2 separate regions of the Homo sapiens genome follow, and region 1 is linked to region 2. The links come from fine-mapping of genetic effects on gene expression. A gene starts in region 2. The other region holds a variant in brackets. All regions are shown on one strand. Distances are from middle to middle. Region 1 has its middle 16 kb from the start of SPATA3-AS1. Region 2 holds the start of GPR55 (G protein-coupled receptor 55).

What was found. PIP is the estimated chance that this variant, and not a neighbour inherited with it, causes the effect.
Region 1: its variant is fine-mapped to the expression of GPR55 in whole blood (TOPMed, PIP above 0.99).

The regions. Positions count from the first base shown.
Region 1 is chr2:230,977,948-230,982,339 of GRCh38, forward strand. No RefSeq gene overlaps it. Among named protein-coding and RNA genes, the nearest start is that of SPATA3-AS1, 16 kb to the right of the region's middle. RefSeq lists an enhancer at 3,803-3,942. The variant A/G (reference allele first, on the strand shown) is at 2,659.
Region 2 is chr2:230,922,825-230,927,216 of GRCh38, forward strand. It overlaps GPR55 (G protein-coupled receptor 55), which reads right to left and starts at 2,418. Exons shown (of 2, transcript NM_005683.4): 1 at 2,344-2,418. RefSeq lists enhancers at 1,763-2,551, 2,115-2,234, 2,355-2,404, 3,225-3,454 and a silencer at 3,675-3,854.

The sequences.
Region 1 (4,392 bases), 55 kb after region 2:
CCCAGTGGCACACGCCACCGTACCCAGCTATTTATTTATTTATTTATTCATTTATTTATTTATTTATTTATTTTTGTAGAAATGAGGTCTTCCTACGTTGCCCAGGCTGGTCTCAAACTCCTGGGCTCAAGCAATTCTCCCACCTCGGCCTCCCAAAGTGCTGGGATTACAGGTGTGAGCCACTATTCTCAACCCATTTTTACTTTTTAACTACATAAATGTTTCACGTATTTTAAAAATAAAATTAAATGTTAAAAAGGTGGGATAAAGAATACCCTACAATAGAATGCAAAAGAAGGAAATCAAACTGATAACGCCTCAAACTGATACCACAACCACACAGAGCAAACACTCTGATTGTGGAGAAGGATCTGTTCTAAGAACAGAAGAACTATAGAAAAACTTCTATTTAGTATGTTTACTGTTAGCAGTAATATTGGTCTTGTAATTCTGAAACTCTTTTGTGCATGTATAGTGGAAAGCAAATAAGCAAATATATATTTTACTGACGGGGAAAAAAGATACTAGTAGTCAGTAAAGAAGTGAAAGAAAAACTGTAATGTTAAATTTGAGTAGGAAATATATCAGTTTGAACTTGTAATTTTTTTTAAAATGAGTTTTCTAATCCTGTCCACTGAATGACAGCCGAGTAGCAATGATCGCATATATCACCAGGTTCTTTCTTTCTCTATACCATTCACCACTAAAGGCACCAGGGCTCGTTAGAGAAATGGTAGATTCTAGGTCAGGGGTGAAAATGTACAACGTGAGCATGGAATCTCTTGTCACACCAGAAAGCAAAACAGTTTTGGAAGATAAATGTGATCATGTCAAAAGGATTCAGGAGCTGACCTGAGGGCTCCCACTGCTCAAATGTGGGATGATTTGAACATCAAAATGAATAACTGTAGTTTCAATTATAGCATTTTTAAAACTCCACGAACCCACAGTGATTAATGTTTTTAATATAGTGGGATTTGGAAATTCTTACAGAAAAAAAGGCCAGCTAGTAAATGTAGCAGGAATAAAAGAATGAAAAACTACCATTTTCCAACCTCCAATGTAATGCTTCCTTCAGGTAAGCATCACCAAGAGTTGCCAAAACTGTTTGGTGACTTGGATATTCAGTTAATCCTGTGACCATGTGAAGATTCTAAAAATTACTTACAAAAGGGGAAGCAGAGTGAGGATTAGTGATCAAACTCAGAATGACCAAGAGTGGCTGACATTATGTACTCCAGATGTGATGCCTGACATTATTTACTCCAGATGTGATACCTGACATTATTTACTCCAGATGTGATACTGACATTATGTACTCCAGATGTGATACCTGACATTATTTACTCCAGATGTGATACCTGACATTACTTACTGCAGAAGTGATACTGACATTATTTACTCCAGATGTGATGCCTGACATTATTAACTCCAGATGTGATGCCTGACATTATTTACTCCAGTTGCGATACTGACATTATTTACTCCCGATGTGATACCTGATGTTATTTACTCCAGATGTGATACTGATGTTTTTTACTGCAGATGTGATACCTGACATTATTTACTCCAGATGTGATACTGACATTATTTACTCCAGATGTGATGCCTGACATTATTTACTCCAGATGTGATAACTGACATTATTTACTGCAGATGTGATACTGACATTATTTATTCCAGATGTAATGCCTGACATTATTTACTCCAGGTGTGATACTGACATTATTTACTGCAGATGTGATACCTGACATTATTTACTCCAGATGTGATATTGACATTATTTACTCCAGATGTGATACTGACATTATTTACTCCAGATGTGATACCTGACATTATTTACTCCAGATGTGATGCCTGACATTATTTACTCCAGATGTGATACTGACATTATTTACTCCAGATGTGATACTGACATTATTTACTCCAGATGTGATACTGACATTATTTACTCCAGATGTGATACCTGACATTATTTACTCCAGATGTGATAACTGACATTATTTACTCCAGATGTGATAACTGACATTATTTACTCCAGATGTGATAACTGACATTATTTACTCCAGATGTGATATTGACATTATTTACTCCAGATGTGATGCCTGACATTATTTACTCCAGATGTGATGCCTGACATTATTTACTCCAGATGTGATGCCTGACATTATTTACTCCAGATGTGATAACTGACATTATTTACTCCAGATATGATACTGACATTATTTACTCCAGATGTGATACTGACATTATTTACTCCAGATGTGATACTGACATTATTTACTCCAGTTGTGATGCCTGACATTATTTACTCCAGATGTGATATTGACATTATTTACTCCAGATGTGATACTTGACTGAGAAGTCTACAGTGGCACCTATGCAGTACAGAACTCTGGCCAAAGATATTCAACCTGCATCTAATCTTGTGTAAGCAATCAGATTAACCCACATATGGGACACTCTACAAGACAACTGTCCTGGACTCTTTATCAAAAACTAATTTCACATAAACAAAGAACAACAACAACAATAAAAAGGTGAAAGACTGTTTCAGATGAAAAGAGACTGAAGAGCCATAACAACCAAATATCATACATGATCTTGATTGGATCCTGGATAGGAAAAAAAAATCCAGCATTAAAAGCTCTTCCGGGG[A/G]CAACTGTAGAGATTTGAATACAGATAGTACACTGGGTGCTATTATGGTTGTGATCATGGTATTGTGGTTTTGTGGGAGAATATCCTTATTAGGAGATGCTGAGATATCTAGAAGTGAAGTGTCAAGATGTCAGCAACTTGCTTTCAAATTGCTCAGCAAAATAAAAGTATGTGGAAATATACAAAGACAGAGAGAGACCAACAGAGACAAAGCAATTGTGGCAAAATGTTAACAGTTGGAGAATCCAGGGTAAGTTCATTGTACTCTTCTTTGAACTTTTCAGAATGTTTGAAAATTTCAAAATAAAATGTGAGGGGGAGGGGAGGGAGTTGCAGGGTGGATAGAGAAGGTTGGGATAGAGCTAGCTGCCAGACCCAAACCATCTGCCACCAACACAGGGAGTTTAAAATGGCCCTCTAAATTACAATAGACTCATCTTCGTTTTGAAATCTTCCTAGGACGGGTGCAGAGGCTCATGTCTGTAATCCCAGCTACTCAGGAGTCTGAGGCACAAGAATCACTTGAACCTGGGAGGCGGAGGTTGGAGTGAGCCTCGATCATGCCACTGCACTCCAGCTGGGGTGACAGAGCAAGACTCTGTCTCAAAAAAAAAAAAAAAAAAAGAAAAAGAAAAACAGAAATCTTCCTAAAAGGAAGAGAAAGCTATACTACACTTTCCTCGAACCTCAAAGCCCCCACTGCTTATAGAAACTTTGAACCCAGTACCCACTGGAAAATAATGAATGGGAAACACACCTGGTAAACACAGTCCAGGTAGAGAGGAAGAGCCTCCCGATGCCCCCAGCCCTGGGTAGGAATCACCAAACCCTACCCCCCAGTTACCAGGCCTGTGAAGCCTCTGGCTTGTCCCAGCTTTGCACTCTTATGGGGAGGGGTGGGGAGAGCCCATCTACCACGCCCGTGTGTCTCCTGTCTTATCATCTAGGACATTCTTACATGGACCTCAGGCACTACTGGGGAAGGCTTTATTCCTTTTCAACACCATCCTCACTCAAAACTGCATTCCTTCATTCATTTGCTTATTTATTCAATGATTTGGCAAGTATTTATTGAACACCAGTGATGCACGAGGCACTGTTTTAGGAACCAGGGACACGACAAGGAATAAGCAGCCGTGGCATCTGTCTTCTGCGGAGCTCACAGGCAAATTGCAACTGTGACAAGTACCACAAAGGGGAGGAACAAGGTGCCCATCAAAGCTGGTGGCATTTGTGTGACAAGCAGGAAATACAATCAACAGGCTTTGGGGATGGGCTGGGTTTGGCGGACGATGAGAAGGAGTGTCAAGAGACACTCCCAGGGTTCTGACTAGTATAATTGGACAGGCAGTGGTGTTCTTCACCAGGACATCCTGGAAGAGGCCTGCAGTGGAGAAAGAGGCGACTCACACCCATGCAGGCCACGGGAGCACAGGTCAGGCACGGAAAGGAGAGGCCTGGGATGTGGTGTGGGTGGGTGGATTGCCTGTGGATTGGTGGTTATGGAAGTTATGTGTAGCAGGGGCCTGTTTTGCGCCTCCACCAGAAACTTCTGCCACTCCCAGGAGGACCACACAGAAGGTCTTCAGTCTCATGCAATTTCCTTTGATTTTGCTCATCTTTGTGCTCAGGAGCAGATCTGGGTCGCATCCTATCCCCCAGGTGACAAGGCTCATCTGGCCTGCTAGCCAGGAGGGTGCCTTTCCTTTGCCTCCAAAAGCAAAGTGGTGGGGG
Region 2 (4,392 bases):
TCCCAAAGTGCTGGGATTACGGGTGTGAGCCATCGCTCCTGGCCTAATTTTTTATTTTTTGTAGAGACAAGGTCTTACTGTGTTGCCCAGGCTGGCCTCAAATTTCTGGGATCGAGCAATCCTCTTGCCTCTGCCTCCCAAACTGCTGGGATTACAGGCGTGAGCCCGAGCACCCGGCCTGTGCTGGTTCTTAATTGCTGACTCTACACATTCTGCAGCTGGGATTCCCGCAACTGCCAGTGGTCCATGGTACCCTCATCCGCCCACACCCTCAAGGATCCAGTGTCCCACTTGCGGCAGCCCTGTGGCTTTGCCTGCACAGCTGAGACCTCGAAACCCAGCTATGTGGCTCCACACCAGACCTACCTTTCTTCCCTCTGTGGCCTGGACTTTCCAGAGAACACAAGCAACAAGAAGATCACAACCCTAAGGAGGGTTGCAACTGAGAAGGTGGCCCTTCCTGCAGCTGCCAGGCTGTTATCTGCACAGAGCATTGCAGCGTGAGCCACCTCAGAGATGGCAGGGCCAGAGCCTAAAAAAGCAGCATTGGCACAGCCGCAGGGATGGATTTGAGGAGCCCTGGAATACTCCCCCAAAAATGCCGCAGTTAGAATACACAGCGTATCCACCAGTAACACCATAGTGTGAATAAAGTCATCCGCCTGTGCCTGAGCTGGGCTTCTGGGGGCCACGATAGAAGAAGGAACAGGACACAGAGGGGACAGAGCACATGACCACAATCTCCCCAATGCCTGAATGTTGCTGGAGCTTGGGCTGGGGGGTTGGAGTGGGGCTGGGAGAGGGGAGGGGCCGGCTTGGGGACGTGAAAGGTGGCCAGCAGTGTGCTCAGTGATCTACGATGGGAACTCAGGACACTCCTAGGAGATTGCCCTAATTATGCCCATTTTACAGATAAGGACAGTAAGGCTTAGAGATGTTAAAGATTCTACCCAAGGTCAAAAAGGCCGTGAGGGACCAGCTGGAACTCATGTTCTGAGTCTCTCCTCCTCGCTCACCCTGGCCCCCATCAGCATCACAAGCAAGAGCATCTGGGATCCAGGAGTTGCCAAGCCCCCTCCTCACTTCTTTGCATGCTCATGCTCCTCTTTCTCCTTGGACTCTCTCCTCCACTGCTAAAAATCCCACCTCTTCCTTGAAATGCCCACTTCCCAGGTTCACCCACATCATCTGATGTGGTTTTCCCAGTGCAGTCCTGAGTGGGTGCCTTGAAAAGTCCTCTGTGTATCCCAGGGGGAGCGTGTCCCTGCTGTCCTCCAGCAACCCCAGGACCAGGACCATGTCCCTTTCACCTTTATCACCGAGCCTCACATACAGTTTGTCGTTGGGAAGGTCTTATTGCATGAAAGAGGGGGTGAAGAAATGACGGAACAAATGGCCAGGTCTGCTGCAGCTCCACAGTGACTGGTGCTCCCTTTACAGCTGGGACAGCCGCTCAGAACCAAAGGCAAACCTTGCCTTCCACAGAGCTGTGGGCGGCACTTTGCCCTGCCCTGTCCTCTCATCCCCACTGCCTCGGGCAGCACAAAGCCCAGGTGAAGCCAGGCCAGCCAGACATGTCCTGACTTTGTGTTCTCACTCTCAGGGAAGAATCTAGAATGTTCAGGGTTCTAAGTGCTGCTGTGTCTTCCCGCCCAGCCTCTCCAAGAGACACTTGGCTAGGGTTAGAGAACAATGCAGCTATAATGTAGGATAGCAACCAGGGCTTTCCTCTCCATCATTTACTGCCCTTGAGCGCCCCGTGAGGAAGAAACCGTGTATTGCCTCATGCCCCAGAGAGGTAAACGGAGGCTAGAGAAATTACGCAGCTGGTGAGTGGGTGAGCCTGGGCTCCCAGGCTCCTTCTGGTCCCCAGTAAGCACTTGCTCAGGGCTGCAGGATGATCCCTGAGAGTGTGTCATCTCGGGCGCTTGGTGGTTTCCCAACAAGATTCTGGGGAATGGGCGGCGGGCTTGGTGGAGGGCGGTGGCACGTGAGCTACATGCCCCGGGAAGGCTCCCAGGCTGCCTATGGGGAGGTTTCCCGACCCGACATGATGCTGCAACCCTGAGTCAGATCAGGAGGAAGTTGAGGGTTCGTAGAAAAATGTCACTCGTAATCGGGGACAAACCAGGTCTGCCTGCCGCTGCTGCTGTCACGGAGGCTGCCTGGAGGCTGCCGCTGCCCTGACACCTGGGACTGCTCGCTGAGTTGGGACAGGTGTGCACAAAGCCCAGGCCCACACAAGCCCCACTGATCTTAGGAGAGTTACCTGCAGTCCACAAGAGCAAGGTCAGGTTGGAGGCTCCGTGCCTTAGTTTCTCTAAATGGCCCAGAGGCTGTTACCTGTTGGTGGTCCGGTGCAGCTGAGAGGGCTGAGAGATGTCATTTCTCCTCCAGGCCTGGCTGTCAGCCTGTTCTGGGGAGAGTCACTTCCCCTCTCTGGGTCTCGACTTCCTTGTGAGTGAAATAAAGGGGTGGGACCAGATGCTCTTTGAGCCGCTCCAGTGTCACCCTGTCTGGCTTAGGGGCTCTTGCTCTGGGGTCTACAGAGAGGCTGTGTGGAACTAGAGTGTGGACATGGGGAGCAGTTTCCAGGAGGAGGGTCTACACTCTCCCGCCCTCTTGGAAGATCTGCACGCCCCCCTCCCGCAGCTCCAAAAAACAAAACAAAAAACCAAAAAGCCAAAAATCACACTGCATGTGTCAAGCCCTGGGAAGCCTCTGGAGGAGGAAGCCTCCTACGCACCCCAGACACCCTAACAGGGGCACCACACAGGGGCAGCCATTCTCAGCACCTGCCAAGGGCCGTCGTGGCTTCCAGCACTTTGGGGGTTTAGGATTTGAAACTGCTGCCCACAGAAAGGAAAGGAAGGTGGTGCTATTTAGTACTTGCAGGTTAGGACTTGCGTGCCTAGCGTCGGAGGAGACCTCAGCCACTGCATGTGTGTCTGCAAGAATGGTCAGTGGGGCCCCACAGGTTCCCCAGCCTCGGCTTCTCTGTCCCAGGCCTGCACAGAGATTTGGGGCAGCCTTGGGCCTGTGGCTTCCTAGGGCCCTGCAAGCAGAGATTTCCCTGGCATCTCCCACCTTCAGGGCTGGGAGGGCTGAGACTCACCCGTGGGCCTGGGTGGCTCTTAGCTGGGAGCCCTCATAGATTCCAGCCCATCAGGAAAGTCTGGGCTGAAACTACCCCGGCAGATGCAGCTCTCATGCCCTGGAGGTGCTGGGAGGCCCTGTCGGAGGACCAAACACAAGCAATTTTTAAAAGCTATGCGTGCTGGGACTTTCAGGTGTCTACAGGAATAGAAACTACTCCTGGGTTTTTTGGATGATTCATCCAACACATGGGTCCCCTCTGTAAATAACACCTTGCAAGTCACTGCAGGGGAACCACCTGGCCCTCTGGAGCTGGGTCTTCCCACTGTCTGGTGAAGAGGTTGATGGAACCATGACAACTTTTAAGCTCTCACCTGGGCTTGTGCGATGGGCAGTGCCAAGTCCACTGCCTGCTCCAGGCCGTGGAGCCCCAAGCTGGCCTGGGTGCCAAGACAGGGCACAGGGCAGTCCTGCCCCCAGCGAGGCCCCCCTACTGGGCCACCAGCCCAATCTAAGCCAAAGGCTGGCTACTGGGCAAGGGGGGGCAGCCAGGCCCGCACCCTGGGTGCGGGAGGAGGCCAGGAGCCTGCTGGGACAGTAGCAGGGAGGAAACACACCGGTGTCTGGCACCCACCTCCATACCCAGAGCCTGCAATGTGAGGCCCCAGGAAGGCATCCACACTGAGTGGCCTGCAGGGAGCAGTGTCTCTGCTCAGCCCCTTCTCAAAGGGAGCCTTGTCTACTCCCATTCTGGCTACCTTCTTTTTTTTTTTTTTTTTTTTTTTTTGATACAGAGTCTCGCTCTGTTGCCCAGGCTGCAGTGCAGTGGCACTATCTTGGCTCACTGCAACCTCCACTTCCCGGGTTCAAGTGATTCTCCTGCCTCAGCCTCCTGAGTAGCTGGGATTACAGGCTTGTGCCACCAGGCCCGACTAACTTTTTTCGTATTTTTAGTAGAGACAAGGTTTCACCATGTTGGTCAGGCTGGTCTTGAACTCCCGACCTCGTGATTCACCCACCTCGGCCTCCCAAAGTGTTAGGATTACAGATGTGAGCCACCGCTCCCGGCCCTGGCTACCTTCTTTTAAGAAATGAATATTTCTACTTTATTGCTGTTGCAATATTAAAATTTTTAAATTTTTAAATTTTTGAAAACATGCACATGATTCAAATACATATGTAAACACATATAGGAAAATATCTGTCCCACTCCTAAATCCAGCTCTCACCTACCCCCCAGGGCACCACTGTTAAGTTTCTTCCAGAGTTTCTGTGCCCGCCCGTGTACACCTGAGC